Linked DNA regions of Homo sapiens: region 2 is linked to region 1. Evidence: fine-mapped expression QTL. Tissue or cell type: lung. Region 1 holds a variant in brackets; the other region holds the start of a gene. All regions are shown on one strand. Distances are from middle to middle.

Region 1 (8,105 bases):
CCAGCTACTCGGGAGGCTGAGGCAGGAGAATTGCTTGAACCTGGGAGGTGGAGCTTGCAGTGAGCCGAGATTGTGCCACTACACTCCAGTCTGGGCGACAGAGTGAGACTCTGTCTCAAAAAAAAAAAAAGAAGAAAGAAAGAAAAAAAAGAAATTGACTTATGCAACTGTGAGGGTGGCAGGTCCAAAATCTCCAGGGTAGGCTGGCAGGCTGGAGACCCAGGGAAGAGTTGATGTTGCCATCTTGAGTCCAAAGGCAGTCTAAAGGCAGAATTCCTTCTTCAGGAGATGTCACTCTGTTCTCTCAAGGCCTTCAGCTGATTGGATGAGGTATACCCACATTATGGAAGGCCTTACCCACGGTCTACTGATGTAAATGTTAATCACACCTAAAAAATACCTTCACAGCAACAACTAGACTGATGCTTGACCAAATGACTGGGTACCATGGCCTAGCCAAGTTGACACATAAAATTAACCATCATAGAACCACTTGAAGGGAGCTGAGGTTCATTTGAGCTTCTGTTAGTTTTCTGGAACACTGGGAAAGCTCTGGTACTGAGACCCCAGGGGACACAGCTTTAATTCTCTCTAAAAGGGAACTCTGTCCAAACTTTAGAGTAGTTTTTTTCCCCTCCCAAGAAATCTATCAATGCACAGAATGGACTTTGGTTGGTAAGTGTTAAGTATTGGTCTCTGGCCCTTGATCCCTAGTGCCATTTCTGGCTTCCAACAAAGGAGCTCATGCTTCATCCCACATTGTTCTCCTTCTCAAAAACGTGAACTCAGTTCTTCTTCCTATCTGAACTCCTCTAGTACCTTGTAACTGACTCTGGGCATTTAAAACTTTGGCTCCTGTATTGTAATTGATAACACATTTTCCAGCCCCTCCCACTCCTCCACCAGCAGGTAAGTTCCCTGAGGGCAAGGGCTAAGCTCACACTTCTGCCTGGCTGCTCCAGTGCCCACGACACTGCTGCTTCATAAACATTGCTCAGTGGAGACAATTTGCAACACTGATTCTCTGTGATGTTTCTTGGGCAGAAACGTGATTGGTGTCAGCCTCAATTTAAGCCTATGTAAAACAGGAAGGAGAAAACTTTACACCTACCATGGACAGAGGCTGACACCGCTTGTCTAGCTTTTGCACTGCCACGTATCTGGCGGTCAAAATAAGTCTTGCTTCTGAATTAGGCTGTGAAGATGGTTGTGCCTTTTATTTTCAGACAGATCCTTGCCCAGCTTGGGCTGAGGGCTATGCAGCATTAGGGACAGTGGGAATTTGTCTGGGGTGGGGGCAGAACTGGCAGGGAAAAGCTTTTGTAGGGGTGGGCTGCTAGACGTACTAGAGAAGCTGCCAGCTTAACTGTATTCGTTTCCTATTACTACTGCAACAAATCACACCTTCAGTGGCTTAAAACAACACAAATTTGTTATTTTTATAGTTCAGCAGGTCAGATCTGACATAGGTTTTGGTGGACTGATGTCAAGATGTCATCAAGACTGTTCCCTTCTGGGAGCTCTAGGGGAGAATCTCTTTCCTTGCCTTTTCCCGATTATAGGCACTGCTCTCATACCTTGGCTGGTGGTCTCCTCCTCCACCTTCAAAGTCAGCAAGGGCCAGTGGAGTCCTTGTGTTGCATCAGTTTGACCTCCGCTGCATTCCTCTTGTACTTTTAAAGACTCTGCCATAAATGTTACACTGGGGCTGGGTGCGCTGGCTCATGCCTGTAATCCTAGCACTTCGGGAGGCCAAGATGGGTGGATCACCTGAGGTCAGGAGTTCGACACCAGCCTGGCCAACATGACGAAACCCTGTCTCTACTAAAAATACAAAAATTAGCCGGGGGTGGTGGCAGGCATCTGTAATCCCAGCTACTGGGGAGGCTGAGGCAGGGGAATTGCTTGAACACAGGAGGCAGAGGTTGCAGTGAGCTGAGATTGCGCCATTGCACTCCAGCCTGGATGACAAGAGTAAAACTCCATCTCAAAAAAAAAAAAAAAAAGGCTGGGCGTGGTGGCTCACGCCTGTAATCCCAGCACTTAAGGCCATGAGGAGGGCAAAGCATAAGGTCAGGAGATCGAGACCATCCTGGCCAACATGGTGAAACCCCGTCTCTACTGAAAATACAAAAATTAGCTGGGCGTGGTGGCGTGTGCTTGTAGTCCCAGCTACTCGGGAGGCTGAGGCAGGAGAATCACTTGAACCTGGGACGTGGAGGTTGCAGTGAGCCGAGATCACGCCACTGCACTCCAGCCTGGCCACAGGGTGAGACTCGGTCTCAAAAAAAAAAGAAGTTACACTGGGCTCACCCAGATGGTCCTGGATAACCCCTACATCTAGAGGTGCTTAATTTAATCACATCTGCAATTTTACCTTTAACATGAAGCAACATATTCATAGGTTCCAGGAATTAGGATGTGGACATCTTTAGAGAGCTATTATTTTGCCTACCATGGTGGCCTTATGATTTCCATTTAACATAAGTGATTAGTGTAAGATATGATTTTAAATGGAAAGATGTGATAGTTTCACTTGTTTAACAATGTTAGAGTTTCTAAGAGAGTTTGAGATAAAATACATTTATGCTTAATTTGTGAAATTTGTAACTTATTTACTTGAGAATGTTTTGCTTATTAAGGCTGTAAGCTTATCTGAGCAAGTATTTGCAGTGTTTTTTCTTTTTGTTTTGTTTTGTTTTTGGGACAAAGTCTCACTCTGTCCCCAGTCTAGAGTGCAGTGACACGATCTCAGCTCACTGCAACCTCTGCCTCCCAGGTTCAAGTGATTCTCCTGCCTCAGCTTCCCGAGTAGCTGGGACTACAGGTGTGCACCACCACACCCAGCTAATTTTTCTATTTTTAGTAGAGAGGGGGGTTTCACCATGTTGGCCAGGTTGGTCTCGATCTCTTGATCTCATGATCCGCCCGCCTCGGCCTCCCAGAGTGCTGGGATTACAGGCGTGAGCCACTGCGCTCAGCCTGCAGTGTTTTTTTAAAAAGCAAATGCATTCAATTTATAATTGAAGTGCTTAAAAATCAAATGTATCAGATTTATAATTGCAGCTTTAAAATGTTTAAAGGATTTTTTTATTAAGTTTGTAAAAGAGAATTACTTTTTAGTGGGACTGTGATCTATTAAATTTGAGTTTATTAAGAGTAATAAAAGATCCTATTATTTTGTATTAAAATTTACTAGGCTTGTAAATATCAAGATTTGTTAGTGGAATTTAAAGGCAACTTTAATGAAAACTGGGTCTCTGTATTTGTTACTTTATCAACAGACATTAATTTTAAATCAAAAAGCTGTAAATAATTCTGTCTATGACATAAACTCATGCCAATTTTTGTTCTAGTTAAGTGTGGGTATATGGTCCTAAGACTTTCAAAAGCATTTTTTGAATGTATATATCGTGGTCCCCAACCTTTTTGGTACCAGGGACTGGTTTCTGTGGACTGGGCGGGTGCGGGGGGGATGGTTCTGGAATGAAACTGTTCTATGTCAGATCATCAGGCATTAGATTTTCACAAGGAGCACACAACCTAGATGCCTCACCTGCGCAGTTCACAACAGGGTTTGTGCTCCTATGAGACTAATGCCACCGCTGATCTGACGGGAGGTGGAGCTCAGGTGGTGACACTCACTTGCCTGCTGCTCACCTCCTGCTGTGTGGCCCGGTTCCTAACAGGCCATGGGCCAGTGCTGGTCCATGGTCTGGGGGTTGGGGACCCCTGGTATATATGGTCCTATTAATTCATTCAGCCCTGGCACTGTGCTAGGTACTATGCAATTGCCACAAGTAAGACTACGATGTAACAAAGTCCCTAGGCAAAGAAGTGTGATGGGAAATGGGATTCACTCAGCTGGATGAGGCTTTAGTGAGGAAGTGGCCCAAAGGTGCTAATCAGACAGATGATAGATGGTAGGGGAAGAACATTCTAAGGAGGCACATTACCTGAGCAGAGAAGGCTTGTCATATTTAGGGAATGGTGAGATTTTGTGATCCTGGTGGAGGTTTAAAAAAATGATCTCTAATTACTCTCATGTACCTTCTGTCATTTTCTGATTGACAGTTAGTGGTCAGATCGGAGGGCGTCCCAGAGTGAAAGTATCAGGTAAGCCAATCTCCCGCAAGTCAGTCACCTGAATAAATCATACCCTCCTGGAAACACAGTGCAATTCTGAACCCGATTCTTAGACTCTTGTTGCTCAGGAAATAACAATAATCATTAACACTGCCTGTCTCCAAGCAGTTCATATGTGTTAGTTCACTTAACCCTCTGAGCCATAAGAGATAGGTATTCTTAGAGTCGAGGAAATTGAGACACAGAGGGCTGAAGTGAGGTGACAAAGGCCACTCTGCAGGTAAGTGGCAGGACCATGATTTGAACCTTGTACAAGCTGTTTCTCTTTTCAGAATGCTCTTGCCCTCATTCCTCTGGGGCTGGCTTCTTCAACATCACTTCTTCAGAGAGGCCCCTGCTGCTTCGGTCCTCACTGTCTTAACTGGGTCCCACTTGTTATTCTAGATCTCAACCCTTTGTTCATTCCCCTCATATTGGTTATTACAAATAACTTTTTTTACTTGCTTTCTCCCCCACCCCCCCTTTAAAAATATTTTTTATTTTTATTTTTAATTATTTATTTTTGAGACGGAGTCTCGCTCTGTCGCCCAGGCTGGAGTCCAGTGGCACGATCTCGGCTCACTGCAAGCTCCACGTCCCAGGTTCATTCCATTCCCCTGCCTCAGCTTCCTGAGTAGCTGGGACTACAGGTGCCCACCACCACGCCTGGCTAACTTTTTTTGCATTTTTAGAGATGGGGTTTCACCGTGTTAGCCAGGATGGTCTCGATCTCCTGACCTCGTGATCCACCTGCCTCAGCCTCCCAAAGTGCTGGGATTACAGGCATGAGCCACCGCGCCCGGCT[C/G]TCCCCCGGCTTTTTTTTTTTTTTTTTTTTTTTTGAGACAGAGTCTTCCTCTGTCACCCAGGCTGGAATGCATTGCACTATGTCGGCTCATTGCAACCTCCGCCTCCCAGGTTCAAGAGATTCTCCTGCCTCAGCCTCCTGATTAGCTAAGACTACAGGCACCTGCCACCACACCCAGGTAATTTTTGTATTTTTAGTAGAGACGGGGCTTTACCATATTGACCAGGCTGGTCTTGAGCTCCTGACCTCAAGTGAGCCACCCGCCTCGGCCTCCCAAAATGTTGGGATTACAGGTGTGAGCCACTGTACCTGGGCCCTCTTTCTTACTAAAATCTAAATTTCATTAAGGCAAGGACGATCCCATCCTTGTCACCAAAAAACAAAACAAAACAAAACCACACACAAAAGGCAGGGACAATTTCTGTCTTGTTCACTACCCTATTCCCAGTGCCTTGCACAGGTCTAGCATATAGTAGCTGTTCCATGAATGCCTGTTGATGAATAAATTGATGTTGACTTCAAAATTCATTATTCCTTAATCATTCTGCTGTGCAAACAGTATATGAAAACATTCAATTTAAGCATAATGCTGTATTACGGACTCAGGTTGGTATTCAGCAACAAGCTTATTTTTCTATGGATTCCTAGAAATTTTACAAAAATGGTAACAAGTTTCTGGGAGAAGGAATATAAGTCTAAATAGGCAAAAGATAAACATATTTGGTATGATAAAAAGCCAACTTGAATTGGGACATACTAAAAATGCACCAGTGTGTGTTGTTGGAAAAACATTTATTGCAATTCAGTGTCAAAAGTTTTTTACAAAAATATGCCACCGTCTGGTACAAACAACTATAAAAAATCAGTTCATCATGCAAGAAAAGTGTGCAAATAATTTATACAGAAGGACTCAGCTCACACAATATTAAATAAACATCTCTGCATGTAATTGGTCTAACTTTATGCTTTAGTTACAATGTTCAACCCCCTCTAATACTTTTCATTTAAAAAAGTACATTAAAGCTTCTAAGCTTAGGACACAGGCTGTAATATACGCCCACTTTAGCCATGGTGATTGGCACTTGGTAGAATAAAGATGGCACCAAGGATTCCCAAGTATAGAATACAGCTTGGAGCCTTCTGCTTAACAGACTTGTGCTTCGTTAATTAAACAAACACATCTATACTCAAAGACAGAAAAAGTCATGTTTAAACTCCAGAAATAATGTAGCAGATGGAGTTTTAAGAAGTTCAGAGTTTTGGAGCAGCCATCATTTTTGGCCAAATGGAGCAGGGCCTAAGTTTTGAGAGATTCTCCAGAAAGCTTTGTTTGCTGAGTGAATTCAAGGACACTTTGAAAAATGCCCAGCAGACAAAGTCATGAATATCATGGCCCCTTGCTCCTGGCTGCCTCATGGAATAATCCCCCTTTGCTTAGTAAAAGATGAAGTTTAGTGGAGAATGAACATCCGCTGGGCTAGAAATGCACTGAATCTCATAGCTGGTCCTGAAGGAGGAAATGGAGAAGATGGATTAAATGTACCTCTGAGTCTAGGGGAGAGGAAACACCTGCTTCGGAATCTCAGTTTCTAGGGAGCAAGCCACTGCCCAGCCCTTCTGTCTTTTTTTATAACGGCCATTTTTGTAATAAAAATGTAAGTACCCAAGGAAGAAATAAAATTGTCAAAATATGCTGCTTTCTTTATAGCAAGCAGGTTGTACTCACTGGAATGCCACATTCACAACAGAATCAGAGGTCTGTGAAAACATTAAGTGGCTCCTTAACTTCTCCAGTAAGAATCAGGGACTTGAAATGGAAACGTTAACAGCCACATGCCCAATGCTGGGCAGTCTCCCATGCCTTCCACAGTGAAGGGCTTGAGAAAAATCACATCCAATGTCATGTGTTTCCAGCCACACCAAAAGGTGCTTGGGGTGGAGGGCTGGGGGCATAGAAGGTCAGGCCTCAGGAGGCCTCAAGTTCGCATTCAGCTTTGCCACTGTACCAGGTGGGCTGACGCACATCCCCTAAACATTCTGGATCTCTTACTCATCGTGAAAGGCAGACGCTCTAAGTCTAAAGTCTAGGGTAGGAGTTTCCATTCTTTGGAAAACCAAAGATGGTTACTCTTCTTAATGAAACTGAGAAGAAGGTATCTACAGAAAACACTGAATTTAAACAAATTATGACCTTGTTTGTTGAAGCCATCAAGGACCCAAGATATATCAAAGAACAACATCTCTGTATTGGCCTACAGGTTCAGAGTGTTTTGAGGTCTGTTTAAGCACTAATAGGATTTTAGGCCAGCATCCAGTCAGAAGAGATAGTTCACAGACTCAGAGTTGGAAACAGATTAAAAAAAAAAAAAAGATGTCAACATAGAAAATGATGATAGAGTTTAGTTAAAAAAATTCACACATAAAATTACAGTTAAAAAAATTCACACATAAAATAGAGTGTTTGCATAGCAAGACATTATTGCCCTTCAGCCTGGCAGAAAAACATAAACTCAGGTGTATATTTTATAATAAACATTGTATTGAATGCTAAGAATGATACACTGTTGAACATCTCCTGAATGGTTTGCCTTCTTGTAAATCATACCAATTGTTTAGACAATTGAAATTCCAAGCTCTTTCTCTTCTCCCATATAAAAACAACAGAAACAGGAGGCTGTTAGTAGCAAGCTCCTCATGGGAAAGGGTATGTGAATCCACAAAGACGAGAACTATGGCAATAGCATAATACACACCCGCTACCTTACTGCCCAAGTGCTAGTAGAACCTGCTCTAGTGTTCAGAGTTTTGCAGTACAAACCCAGTCCCTCTGAAATACGTCTTCCAAGCCACTTCAATGTAAACCTGATCATCATTAAACAAAAATCATCTCACAACTGATACATTGGGGATGCTTTCACCTAATAGCTTTTGTTCATTTCTGCCATTTGCCCTCCCATTCAACTGATTTGTCTGCTCAAAGTAACAGCATTGAGTGATAATGCAATCTAGTTTAAAATGCCATTGGATTTTTTTTTTTCTGGATCTTGCTCTAGTGTGAGCACTCCTGAACTTCACATATTCTCCTTGTCCCAAATGCAAGGGTTTACTCTCAAGAGACTCTAGGCTCACTGCCCATAAACCTTTGAGTTGGACCAAATCTTAACATCCCTGTGGA
Region 2 (8,096 bases), 45 kb after region 1:
CACTCACAAGGCTAGCACCCGGAATGCTCTGGTGAAACAAACAGCCTAGTGTATAACGCTCATAGAACAGTGCCTTGCACACAGTAAGCACTCATAAAATCTTAACTATTATTTTTATCCAGTCACCAAGGTAAACTTCCTGCTTCCGGGTCCAGCCTCAGCCATACAGTAAAGTAACATTTGAGTCAGTCTTCAATGACAGAAGTGTAGGCTTAGAAAAGAGTGGCAGAGGCTCAGACAGCTTAGGTTACTCATCCTGGGGGTGGGCGGTGAGGGGGTGGTTGCTGAGGAAGGCTGTGCGGGTGCCTGAACCACCACTTCCTTGAAGCATTCTTGGATCATCCCAATTCACGCCAAGCTCTTTCCTTGCATTTTAAATCTGCCCCAGCATATTTAACACTTGCCATTCCCCTTCTATTTTATATAATTTCAACATTTTTGAGAAGGGGTCCTGCTTTAAGCTTATCTTAAATCCTCCCATGATCTCACTCCTGGACACATGGCTGGGACTGGATTTGTAACATTCTACACTGGAGAAGGTTGGAGTCCTAGACCACAGAGAAGATGGCCAGCTGAGTCCAGAATAGGTGTGCTGTGTGGACAAGACTTGGTCAACACGAAACAATAACCCCAGGCTGAAAACCACCAAATGCATCCTTCATCCCGGGCTCTTGTTTGGGCCGTTTGCAGAATGGTCTGTGGAATTAGAGAAGTCAGTCTACCATGTCTCTGTAGTTCTCTGTTTCACGGTCCCTCCCCGCTTAAGGGCCTGCCTTTTGTTTTCTCATAACAGGAGAGGCATTCAGCTTCACCTGTGCAGGCAGGCACGCAGTCCAAACCTGACATCACGGGGAAACATCACCAAGACCAAAAACAGTGAGGATATTTGAGATGACAAACCCAGACCACAGAAGGCCAACTGCTTTTAAGAAGTTGCAGGCTTCTCATGCTAAGCAGGGAAGGGATTGTTTACAGTTGCTGGAAAAAAAAATACCCTGCAAACAAACAGCCAGCTGCTTTGCTAGGAGGCTACCAAATGATTCCTAAACGCTGACTCAAAGGACCACAGGTGGTCAGTATATCAATGACTATTTGCGGTAATGATGATGGATGTGACAGCTCCAGCTCAGGTGTGAAATGGGAAGAAAAAGAGGCTCATGAACAGGACACGGGAGGGGGGCTGTGCAGGAAACCACCTGATTCCAGCCCAGTCTAAACTTTTGTGGTAAGTTAAGACCATCTTCAGGTCTTCCATACTGTGAAGACAGAGATACCACTATTTCTAAAGGAGAGTGACACCAGTTTCTCTCCTGATGCCGGTATAGGGTATTTTAAAACAAATTTTAAATTTTTATTTATTTTTAGAGACAGGGTCTCGCTCTGTGGCCCAGGCTGGAGCGCAGTGGCACAGTCATGACTCGCTGCAGCCTTGAACTTCTGAGCACAAGCCATCCTCCCACCTCAGCCTCCCGAGTAGGGTAAGTATTAATACGACCCTACATTTTAAATCTTCTGCTGAACTCAATCATCTGTTCTCCACTGAGGAGCATCCTGCAATTATATTTGGGTGAGCAGCTCTAACATGACTCTTCAGACCCTTTCGGCACTTTTCTAGAAAGAACCTGAACTTGTATACAGAAATAAAGTACCAACATATTAGATCATTGTCCTTAGGAACAAGGAGGAAGGAAGGAAGGTTCCCATTTTGTTGAGGGAGAATAATTTAGGCATAATTGGTAACTCCAGTCGATAAAAGACATAGTCTGTCAATAGCAGTTGGTCTTACTTTCCCGTAAATAAATTACTTGATTTTACGTAAATAAGATTTCCTTATGGTGGTCCCTAAACTCCCCTGGGACAGCCTCCAAGTAACTCCAACGTAAATGGTTATATGCTGGTGGTTAATACGCTCAAGTCTCTCCGGACAGACCCCCAGAATTAAATAATGTCTTTCTTTACATTGTGAGACAATGGGAATTTGATGCATTACAAATCACAAACAAATGGGAGGCACGGGAGTTCAAGTTGCCAAAATAACCACATTTTCTTGATAGTTTTCTCAAAATTTATTGCCAATGCTTCATCCAAGCAACGACTGGTAAATCTCAGTAAGCGGGAACCTGGCCCAGAAACAGAATTCTCCATTGAAGTCAATTTAAGGGTGCAGGGGCCCATGGTTTTAACCAAAGGTGGCAGGAAAAGGCTCCCAAGGGTGACTCTGGCTGCACCAGTCCATTCTGGAATCACTTTCATCGCCCCCGCTCACCGGGCTAAATGCTGAGAGTCTCTGAAAGTCAACTGTCGAGGTCAGGGGCTGAGAAATTCCAGGCTACCTTGCGTACTAGCCGGCGCTGGCATCGTTAGCCAAGCTGAGCAGGGAGCGCAGCGGACCTCAGGTTTCCCGCCAGACCACAGAGCTCAGGTGAGGCCTCGAATCCAGAGGCTCACCGGGGCCAGGCAGGCTTTTCGCAGCTGACAGGCACCCCTGGAAACGGAGTGCACTCTATACAAAGCAGACCGACCGAGAGGGCCACCGAGGAAACAGGTGCAAGAGCCCTGTCCTCCCAGAAGCAGAGCTCTTGTGGGATTCATCCCCTGCCCCCTTCCCTCCTTTGCACCTCTGCAGCCCCAAGCCTCCACCGCTCGCAAGTCCGCCCAGTAAGCGGCTGCCCCAGGGACCATCTGGCCGTCCCTTCCTGGTTACTCATCCTCCCGGCCACTTCGTGGTTGCCCGTGCCTGGGCAGGGCCTGGAAGCGCTCCAGGCGGGACCTTCGTCGGATCCCGTCACCTGTCGCGTCCACAGCGCTTGGGCGCTGGGAGCCGGGCCACCCCGCGGTGAAGGGGCTCAGCCCACCCGCCCGCGCCCCCACATGGGCAAAGTGCGCGACTCCGGTGTCCTTAAAGCAGGGACCACTAAAGCTGTGTGATTAAGTTTGAGCGAACGTTTGGGGACACGATCCGCGAATGTCATCAGACTCTCAGAGGGACCAGGTGTTCTGTAAGGAGTCGTGTCCACTTGGAGACACTGACCTTGAACAATAAGAGAAACCGAATTCCCTGTCTCCGGTGGTCCGAAGACCTCTGCAGAAATCGGGCCCCGTAGTCCCACCCTCCGGGTCAGGGTCTCCCTCCTCAGCCCGCTCCAGCCCTGCCTGCCCCTCATTCGCCGTCCCTGCGCCCCCCAGACCAGCCCGGGTCAGTTTCGCGGGGGCTGGAAGTTGGTAGCGGGTCCCCTCACCTGCTGAGGTCGCTCACGAAACTGCCGCTCTTCTCATCCAGGAAGCGCTTCCAGCCGTCGGCCGTCTTCACCCAGTTCTGCCCGGGGGACCGCCAGTCCTGCCCGAGGAATGGCATGGCACCGCGAGCGGACTAGACGGATGGGGAGACGGGGCCGGCCTGGTGGGCTCGGGGACGTGCCACCCGGGGCGGATGCTCGGGGTGCAGGGGCCCGCGACGGGGGCGGCGGGGCGGCGGGAACGGCGCGGGGCACCCTGCGGGGTGGCGGGCGCGGAGAGGATCTCAAGCGTTGCAGGCTCCGGGAGTGCTGCGCGGCAGTAGCTGCCGCAGTATTTATCCCCGCAGCCGGCCGCAGCTCTTTGTTGCCGGAAGAGCCGCCCGCTCTTAGCCCGGCCCCCCGGCCCGGAGGCCACGTGGCTTTGTTTATGGGCTCGGCTTGTTTTCCGAGGCGCCTGCGGCTCACGCTCCCCTCCCGGTTGCACAACCGCGCCGGTGGAAACTTGAAGCGGTGCTGCCGGGCCGGGTACCCCGCCGCCCCTGGCACCTCCGCGCGCCCTCCCCGCCCCCAGGACACCGTTGTCCCAGAGCGAGGCCCGGCGCTTGGAAAGATGCGCCCCGGTCTCCTGCAGCTCCCGGGCTGACGGGGTGCAGGGAGGGGGCCGGAGGGGCGTCTGGGTCCCTGCGGGGTGGGCGTGAGGAGCAGGGCCAGCCCCCCTCCTGCCCCCGAGCTATCAGGATCGACCTCCGCAGCCAGATCAGCCTCCCGGGCCGTCCGCAGAGCTGGGGCCGGCACCGCGCCCGCCGGGCGGGGAGTAGGGGGCGCAGCCTCCTGACCTCGCTCACTGCCCCAACCCCGCCCTAGCGCGCGGGGGTTGGAGCGGGGAGGAGGGACAGCCTCCCAGCCCTCCGGGCCCCTTAGCTGTCACTAACCAGTCCTCCTTCAGACCTGCCCCTGGGGCAGCAAAGGAGGGGAAGGAGAGGAAGCCCTGGGAGGTATCTGGCTCCCGCAGGTTGGGAGTGGAGAAAAAGAACAGCGCCCCTATCCTACCCGAACCCTCTAAGAGACGGGTTAAATGATGTACCCAGGGCCAATGCTACAGTACAATCTGAAACTACCCTGTTTGCTTTTACTTTTTGCTGTTGTTACAACAATCTACCCCTGTCTGCAGTGGGAACTCCATGAGAGCTGGTCTGTCTTGTTCCGGAGGCATTTCAGCCCCTGCACCCTGCCAGGCCCAGTGCAGGCCTTCAACAACTATTTGTGTGAATAAGTGAATGGATACGGGAGGCTGCTGGCATGAGGGTGGCTTCTTGCCCTTCATCACCTCTAGTTATGATGCTTTACAGCCTGGTCTATTTGGCAATTAGTTTGCACAGGACAGCAGCAGCAGAGTAAAAATCCCATACTCAAGCATTAGCTTCAAACTTCATTCTTCCATTCTTCTTTCTCTGCAGCCATCAATATCATCTAGTCCACTGACTCGGTGTAATCTTTAAGGCTCAGGCAAAGAAATTGTGTGTGCCCTATGAGGCTACATGTTGGACTGGGAAGACGTTTTTAATAAAGTTTGTTTTCAAGAAGCCAGAGCTTTCTGATTTAGATTTCCCACCGTAAATAATTTATTAGTGTAGTAATAGTAAAAAAAAAGCTTGTAAAAACATTGAAGAAGTCCCAAACAAATGTTAAACACTGTGATGGTGCTAACAAATGAGGCAGTGTTGGGTCTGGTCTCTGTTGGAGGGAATTGGTATCTGCATAATTAAGGGATGTGATTATTATTATTATTATTTTTGAGACAGGGTCTCATTGTGTCACTCAGGCTAGAGTGAGTGATCATGGCTCACTGTAGCCTCAGCCTCCCCAGCTCAAGCCATCCTCCCACCTCGGCCCCAGTCTCCAGTAGCTGAGACTACAGGCACTCACCACTGCACCAGGCTAATTTTTTATATTTTTTGTAGAGATAGGGTTTTGCTATCTTGCCCAGGCTAGTCTTAAACTCCTGGGCTCAAGTGATCCTCCTTCCTTGGCCTCCCAAAGTGTTGGGATTACAGGCGTGAGCCACCATGCCCGCCTGGGATGTGATTATGAACAATGTGGGTTAGTTATGTATTAGTAAGCTGGCTACATACCTGTAGAGACCACAGAGGGCCAGAAGGTAGAAGTTTTGAATTCTAATTCTGCTGGAGCAGCATACTACCTGTCCTCCCTTGGATGAATGACTTAAACTCTTAGGGCCCCATTTACTTAACTGTCAAGAAAAAATGGAGCCAATAATGCCTACCTTTCAGGATGGTTTAAAAGCTGTGGTAGATTGAATTATTAGTACCCATTCTTCCCTCCTTTCCAGTAGCGTCATGTGCCCACACTTTTTGGTGATGTGTATTTTTCTAATTCTTGACAATGGGCTTGGCCATATGACTGGCTTTAGCCAAGGGGATGCTGATGGATGTGATGTGAGCAGAGGATCTGATGTATGTACTTGCCTGGTTGGTCTTGATGTTTTGTGTGTTCACCTGCTCCATGAAAAGAGCATACCCTGTGTAGCCACTGCTCCTGGAGTGGTTTGAGTGACATCCGTGTGTCCCAGGATGTGACACATGGAGCAGACACTCCCGTTGACCTCACAGATGTGTTAGCAAGAAATAAATGTGTCTTGTTGATGCCACTGAGATTTTTGTGATTTACTGTTACACAGCATTATTGTGTCGATAGCTGACTACTATAAAGGGTTGAGTGGCTCAAAGTTGGTGAAAGTTTCTTTAACTTCTAAAATTCAAGCACAAATAGGAAATTACAATTATTTTTGTCCTTGTCTTTTTGTCTAATAACTAATCTTAGGAAGCCTCAGTGTTTGTCTCTAGTCCTTCCGCTTTCTGTTCCTTAAAACAAACAAACAGAATTGTTGCTATCATATCTTAATGCAGGCTTCTTCTGAAGTGTGATTGACTATTTCAGATTTCTCTTACCATAAAAAAATCTAATTTGAGACTTCTTTTTTTTTTTTGAAACAGAGTCTTGCTCTATCACCCAGGCTAGAGTGTACCGGTGCAATCATGGCTCACTGCAGCCTTGAACTCTTGAGCTCAAGTGATTCTCCTGCCTCAGCCTCCTGAGCAGCTAAGACAACAGGCGTGCACCACCATGCCTGGTTGATTAAAACATTTTTTTTTTGGAGAGATGGGGTCTTGCTATGTTGCTCGGGCTGGTCTCAAACTCTGGCCTCAAGTGATCCTCCCGCCTTGGCCTCCCAAACTACTAGGAGTACAGGCATGAGCCACCATGCTCAGCTGACACTTATTTAAACATGGTTTCTACTGGGAAGTTTTGTAATGCTGGACCCCTCAAGATAAAGAACTTGCTAGGCTATGTCCAGAACAGTTACCTTCAAATCAGATGGGGGCTTGAACTTTGTAAAGACTCTGTGATTGTAAGCCCTATCATAGCTGAGCATTTGAGAATCACCAAAAGCAAAATATCAATGTTATAGCTTCAGGCTGAAGACATAGAGACAGATAGATACTCAGAGAATTTCACAAGGCACAGCACAGACTGGTCAGGACCCCATGTAGCCTAATGGTGTGTGCAGTGTACATGATGTATGTACCATGGCTGTGTGTTTCATTGCTTAGACACTTAGCTACTGCCTTTCCTGCACTGTTTTGTATAACACATTACCCAGATTACATACTGGGTGTTTGATTTTTTGTGTTTTCTTCTCCTGTCTAGGACTGTGAGCTCCTTGATGGCAGGGCTGTGTCTTAGGAGTTTAGTGCCACAGTGTCTAATAAGGTTCTTGGTACACGGTACATTTACATCAACAAATCAACAAATGGGCCCAACGCGGTGGCTCACACCTGTAATCTCAGCACTTTGGGAGGCTGAGGCAGGTGGATCACCTGAGGTCAGGAGTTTGAGACTAGCCTGGCCAACATGGTGAAACGCCATCTCTACTAAAAATATAAAATTTAGCCAGGCGTGGTGGTGGGTGCCTGTAATCCCAACTACTCAGGAGGCTGGGGCAGGAGAATCGCTGGAACCCGGGAGGTGGAGGTTGCAGTGAGCTGAGATCGCGCCACTGCACTCCAGCCTGGGTGATAAGAGTGAGATTCCTTCTCAAAAAAAAAAAAAAAAAAATCAACAAATGTTGTTGAACTGACCTGGAAGGCTGTTATTCCCATGTCTTTACCTGTTGACATTTTATTACTTCTAGGGACATAGCAGGGTGGAGCAAAGGGAGGGTTGGCAGCCCCCAGTCCTACCTCGTATAGCTGCATTCTCCAATAGTGATGCTTTATGGGTTAGTGAGGCAGATGGGGAAGGTAGTCAAAAGGTGGTATCTTAGAAAAAATATGTTTTAATGTCCTATTCCATTGATGATAGATGCCTGCCATGCTGAGGACAGTGTGCCAGTCACTTCACAAACACAATCCTGTTACATACTCCTCATAAACCTGTGGGCTAGGAATTGCTATTCCCATTTTATAGATGAGGAAACTTCAGCTCAGAAAAGTTGAATAGCCTGCGTGAGATCACCTAGCAAATGTGGTGGGACTCCAACTGGTACCCAGGCTTATCTCTAACCCTGACTAGAGCCAGACTCACTGGGTTCAAATCACATTCCCCACCTAAAAAGCTGTGTGATCTTGGGCAAGTTACTTAACATCTCTGTACCATACTTCCTTTATTTGTAAAATGGAAATAATGATAGTACCTACCTCAAAGGGTGTTTTGAGGATTTATTGAGATAATATGTATGAAGAACTTCTAACAGTGCCAATGACAATGGGTCTTTATTGTCATTATCTTTATGCAAAGTTTACACCTCCATCTTTTACTCGGTTAAGCCATGTCCACCTT

What was found. PIP is the estimated chance that this variant, and not a neighbour inherited with it, causes the effect.
Region 2: it holds the start of FBXO32, and the variant in region 1 is fine-mapped to the expression of FBXO32 in lung (TOPMed, PIP above 0.99).

What each region holds. Positions count from the first base shown.
Region 1 is chr8:123,492,184-123,500,288 of GRCh38, forward strand. FBXO32 (F-box protein 32) reads right to left here. Exons shown (of 9, transcript NM_058229.4): 9 at 5,706-8,105. Among named protein-coding and RNA genes, the nearest start is that of FBXO32, 45 kb to the right of the region's middle. The variant C/G (reference allele first, on the strand shown) is at 4,931.
Region 2 is chr8:123,537,660-123,545,755 of GRCh38, forward strand. It overlaps FBXO32 (F-box protein 32), which reads right to left and starts at 3,547. Exons shown (of 9, transcript NM_058229.4): 1 at 3,240-3,547. The coding sequence starts at 3,355. RefSeq lists silencers at 3,444-3,533, 3,584-3,693, 3,784-4,073.